2 separate regions of the Homo sapiens genome follow, and region 2 is linked to region 1. The links come from fine-mapping of genetic effects on gene expression. A gene starts in region 1. The other region holds a variant in brackets. All regions are shown on one strand. Distances are from middle to middle.

The links.
Region 2: its variant is fine-mapped to the expression of KRT222 in tibial nerve (GTEx, PIP above 0.99).

The regions. Positions count from the first base shown.
Region 1 is chr17:40,663,453-40,666,374 of GRCh38, reverse strand. KRT222 (keratin 222) reads left to right here and starts at 1,198. Exons shown (of 6, transcript NM_152349.3): 1 at 1,198-1,371. The coding sequence starts at 1,276.
Region 2 is chr17:40,726,358-40,729,279 of GRCh38, reverse strand. No RefSeq gene overlaps it. Among named protein-coding and RNA genes, the nearest start is that of KRT24, 24 kb to the right of the region's middle. The variant G/C (reference allele first, on the strand shown) is at 1,085.

The DNA of each region.
Region 1 (2,922 bases):
CAGATGTGAGTTAATTCAGAAATTAAAAGAGCAGGACATGCATGCAAAGGCCCTGTAAGGGCTAGAACCCAGGTCTGATTATCTCCTGAACTGTGCTCCAGATACAATTCAGCCAAAGCCACTCCACAAATAACAATAATGATAGATCCACTCTCACGACATATTTCTGTCACATCTAGCAACCAGCTGGCAAGATTAAACCAGGAATTTAGAAGGGGAGAGAGAGAACGCAGAGGCAGATATGCAGGGGTAATACATGGAACACAAGCAAGTTGTCAAAGAGCCAGTCCCAGTGATGTCATACATCACTGAGCAACCTTGGGCAAGATGCCTCAACCTCTCTGGCCTCAGTCTTTTCATCTTTACAGGTTAGAAAATGTCAGGGATTGCAAGGATTGGATGGAATGATACGCCAAATACACCCTCCGAAGGGCTCAAGTGATTGCAACGATTGGATGGAATGGTACACTGACTACACCCTCCAAAGGACTCAAGGGTTCTTTTGGTGAATACACCAAAAGGTCTATTTCTTCATCCTTGTTAAAACTTTGGAAATGTTAACTCACAACTCTCATAGTCTACCAGCACTTATCTGCAACATTTTGAGAAAACTAAATATAATTTTCTTTTTTTTTTTTTTTTTTTTTTTTGGAGATGGAGTCTCACTCTGTCACCCAGGCTGGAGTGCAGTGGCTCAATCTCGGCTCACTGCAACCTCCACCTCCTGGGTTCAAGCAATTCTCCTGCCTCAGCCTCCCGAGTAGCTGGGATTACAGGCACCCACCACCACGCCCAGCTAATTTTTGTATTTTTAGTAAAGACAGGGTTTCATCATGTTGGCCAGGCTGATCTCGAACTCCCGACCTCAGGTGATCCACCCACCTCAACCTCCTAAAGTGCTGGGATTACAGGCATGAGCCACCATGCCCGGCAATTTTCTTATGTTATGCCCCATTTCCTTTTCACAAAAATGAACTCCCCCTCCCCTCAAAGTGCTCAATTTTTACAGGGAACCAGTACAGGTTTTTGAAATTTTCCTTTCCTTCATGAAGAATCTGACATTTCTACTATACCAATAACAATAGGAGCAAAGAGTTTACCCTGTATTTGCATAATTAGTTAGAAAGATGAGAATTTCCGTGGCCTCCGAAAAAGGAGCTCTGCATCTTTAAAACTCTGCGAGGCTCCCTGCCTTCCGCGCAGACCGAGCAGACTGCCGCAGCGACTCATCCTATCGATAAGGTTCAGTTAGCCAAGGTGGAGGATGGGAAAAGAATGGAACTGTCCCAGCTACTCAATGAGATCAGGGCAAACTATGAAAAGATCCTCACCAGAAATCAGATAGAGACGGTGCTCTCAACAAGGATCCAGGTAATGATTTCATACAGACAGGCACCTTCCAGAATAAGGAGACAGTCCATGTCTACCCAATTCCTGTCCCGGCCTCTCTGAGGTACAGTATTTCCTTTTCGATGCAGCATCTATTGGGGAAGGAATTTAGCTTCTACTGCAGTGTGACTGGGACTACAGGGGGAAATACTGTGATTATATTGTTAAATTGCCATTAAGTAAGTGTTGATTGATGCATTTGATTTTTATATAAATTGTGAGGTTCCTATCATTAACATGGGGTCAACATACCATAAAATGGTGCACTCTAACCTCTTACAATCTTCAGGAAGGAACCATTCCAAATACCCTTCAAAGATATTATTGGAGTTATTTACAGAGATAATTTAAATAACATCTTTAAAATGAAAAATCTTTAAGTAAGATTTATTAGCATGTACACTTTCTAGAGATATTTCTAAAAGGTTTCTATCATCTTTTTAACGAGTTCCATTTTATACCAGATTGTTATAAATAGAAATCATCTGAGTGTGTGAACATGGCATTCAGAAACAATGATATAAATTATGACCATTGAAATTCCCCAAATTGGTAACGATTCTCCACTAAGATTTTTGCTTCTGTACTATAAGATGAGAAACATTTCTTTCCATTACAAAGCTTGTAATATTTAAGTATTTAAAAAAGAGAAAGAGAGCCTACTTAGATAAGGACTAAATCCTAATTTCATAGACTTAGTTTTAAAGTAACAATCACCTTCAGCAAGTAATTAAGGTCTCAAGTCTTTAAACAAATTTACAAACAAATATTTTAGAAACAAAGATTAAGAAATTTAGGGGATTTTTTAGTTTACCTATCATATATGGGTTCAAGTTATCTTCCAAACCCTGAAATACAGCAAAAAGTTTACTTAAGAATATCACCCAAAATTTTAAAAAAAAAAATTGGTAGAAAAATGTCAGGCCTTTATTCCATTAGCCACTCATTTTTAGTTCCATTGTAAATTTCACCTCTAGATAACATTTTCAGCCTTCATAAAGAATGATCAACATCTTAGATTAAGCAAAGTCACTGGTACAGGTAAGCATTGGGATAGTTCATTCACCTTTACAAACAGAAGAAAAAAATCAATAGATGACAACTTCTAAAAATCATAAACAAAACACTTAACTTTGCAGTAGTAGAAATATGAGTTTAGTTTACAAGTCACAGGGCCAAAATGAGTAAATTCAAATGAAAAAGCAAGACTACGGTGAGTTTTGTTTAAAGTGTCTTTTAATTTGAAACTACTTTAGAGGATTTTCTTCCAAATAACTCAGAAAGTCAGCTGAAATAAATTCAAGACAGCCTGATTAGTTATTTTTTTAAATTTCTAAATAAGCTATTTTAGTTACAGATTGTTGTATAACACCCCAAAACTCATCTGGGACCTCAATCGTCTTGGGGCATGACTGGGCTCACTTATGTGTCTGGCACTTTGGCAGGGCATTGCCGAAAGGCTGGCTCTGCTGGGACTTTCTCTCTCACTTCACGTAGCCTCAGGGTCTCTCTCCATCTGGCCTTTCTACAGGA
Region 2 (2,922 bases), 63 kb before region 1:
TATATAAGATGTATAATATATAACAATAATAAAATAGCTAAATAGAATAATTGATAAATGAATAGAATAATAAATTGAATAATAAAAGAATAATAAATAAGCAGAATAATGGAGTGATAGAAAAATTGTAAATGAATGAAGCAATAGCACCAACTTTTAACTGCTATGTTCATCATAAACAGCACAGTGAGTTTGAAATATTCATATTACCTTGTTATACAATATACAATATGAGCAACATGGGCATTACATGTATCCTTGTCCAAAATAAATTATTCTGAAGCTATCAACATTTCCATCTTTAATCTTTAAAATCTGTATCTTATAGCAGGAAGATGTGGTTCCAGTTTTTTCAGATATTTTAATACAATTTCCTCTTTGGATACAACACCAAAATCTACAAAGCCATGTAAGGAAGAATAATCTTCATCTTGTCAGTAAACAAATAAAAGTGCAGGTGTCTTGGATCTTTGTTCAAGCACTATCACTAACTCATTCGAGATCTTAAAGAAACCACTACTCTGAGTTAAGACTTTTTAAAATTAAGATTTTTGAATTTTAAAAGGAAGGAGGCCGGGCACGGTGGCTCATGCCTGTAATCCCAGCACTTTAGGAGGTCGAGGCGGGTGGATCACGAGGTCAGGAGATCGAGACCATCCTGGTTAACACGGTGAAACCCCGTCTCTACTAAACAAAATACAAAAAATTAGCCAGGCGTGGTGGCGGGCGCCTGTAGTCCCAGCTACTCGGGAGGCTGAGGCAGGAGAATGGCGTGAACCTGGGAGACGGACCTTGCAGTGAGCCGAGATCGCGCCACTGCACTCCAGCCTGGGCGACAGAGAGAGACTCCGTCTCAAAAAAAAAAAAAAAAAAAAAAAAAGGAAGGAATTCATCTGCCTTCCTTTAAGTTCTTCATCCCTTTCTAGATGGTAGAGAATTTCACTAAATTTGCCTGAAGTTACTGGACTTGATATCAGGGGGAAAAAAAATACACGTAATTTAATAGAAAACATTTGGGAAAATATTTTTATTTGAAACAATTTTAACCACTTTTCCAAAACACCAGCATCAAAACTGGGTTTAT[G/C]TAGAGTGCAAAATGGAGGTCAACGACACAGGCAATGCCCTGAAAACTTTCACAACTGCTGGCCTGGAAATGAATATGAAACCAAACTGAAGAAAGTGACTCACCACAGAAGGGAATCACGCCTCAATGCTTTTCCACCTCTCCTCCAAAACAATCATTTTCTTCAGGGTTTGTTTTAGGAAAAAAAAAAAATCAGAGAAAATAGAAGTATAGATTTTTCCTGTTTTAATGTAATCTTTTCTGTTCCTTTTGATTAGGCAATGAGATTGCGGAATAGTCTAGTAGTCATATAATTACTGTAAGGAATGCTGCCCCAGCTGCCGACCGGTCTTAATATTTGAATGTTGATAAACGTAACGCAACATTTTTGTCAAGCAAAACTATTAAGAAGCTAAAGAACAATTCAATTAATAGAGTAGCTAGTCAAATATATAAGTATAAATAAAATAGGGGTATATTTCAGAGCTCTGTTTTGCCAAGATGTTATAGCTCAGAGTAAGTCATGGCCAGCTCAGTTCTCCACTGAAGCAGCAAGATATGAGATCATGAAACTGAAAAACGTATTCTTCACACCCATGACACTGAGCTACAATCCCTAATAGCTAAGGTATGTGAGAGCAGCTGAATACAACCTCAAACTTAAATCAGAAAGAATCCATAGATAGGGTCTACATCTTTTTTTGTAAATAATTATATATAAAAATTTCAAAGATAAGCCCCTTAGAAAAGACATCAAATGGAACACCAAATGTACATAGAAAAATGGTGAGGACTATGACGGACCTTTCAATAGATGAAGTTAGGCTGACCTCCCGGTTTAGAAACATATGGTCTTATGGAATAACTAATACAGTACAAATGCAAGAAAACAGCAATAAAAATGATCAAACCTTATGCTTGAATATGGAATTACAATTTACAGAGTGCTCTGCGCTCTCCATTTGATGTGATAATCCTATGCCATGTGTAGGGCAGGAACTATTATCCTTAATTTTACAGGTGAAAAAACTATGGCTCAAGAAATCGAAGTTTCTAGATGAAGTTAAGGCTTCTTGGTAACTAGTAGAGTTCTACCACTAGAGGACTCTACTAGTTCTGACCCTAAATCCAGGCAGACTTCTGCAAATAATATGAGTGCATAGACCTGAGTTGGAATCTCAGTTCCAACACTTCCCAGATATCTGGCCCTGGGAAAGTCACTTCATTTCTTTAAGTTTTGTTGCAGGTTGACTCTCAGTGAGTAGATGCTGAGACTGAGTTTGAGGATCAAAAGTTATCCTAAGGAGTAATACTTATGAAAGGAAAAGGGAGAAAGCAAGACCAGGGAGGGTTTTAGTCTTTTGCAGGATAGTTAGCAGACTGATGCAGACCAAAGTCTCTGTCAGCCCCGTGAGAGTTCTGGAACAAAGATTGCCCATTGGCCCCTAGCATGCCCCAAAAATAAGTCATCACCATTTATCAACTGCATCAGATAGGCCCATTTTATTTTTTTATAATTTCAAGTGACTTTTACAAATAATATACAGAAGATATAAAAGATAGCACAAAACTAATTTATTTAAAATGTTAATATAAACTAAAACATAGAAAACCCAAATTTTTATTCTATAATTTTGTGGTTTGGAAGTATATATACCTAAAATGGGCAACATCTTTGAATGCATGTCATGCATGCCCCTGGAACATACCCATTCTGTATTTATGGATTCCAGATTTCAAATGCATCTGTAATAGGTTCTAGTTCATCATTACTTTCAACTCTTGCACTTGCAGCTACAAAATGCAATAAGTTTGGGAACTTTAATAGCTCACAAGATTTTTTAAGAGAGGAGCCACCC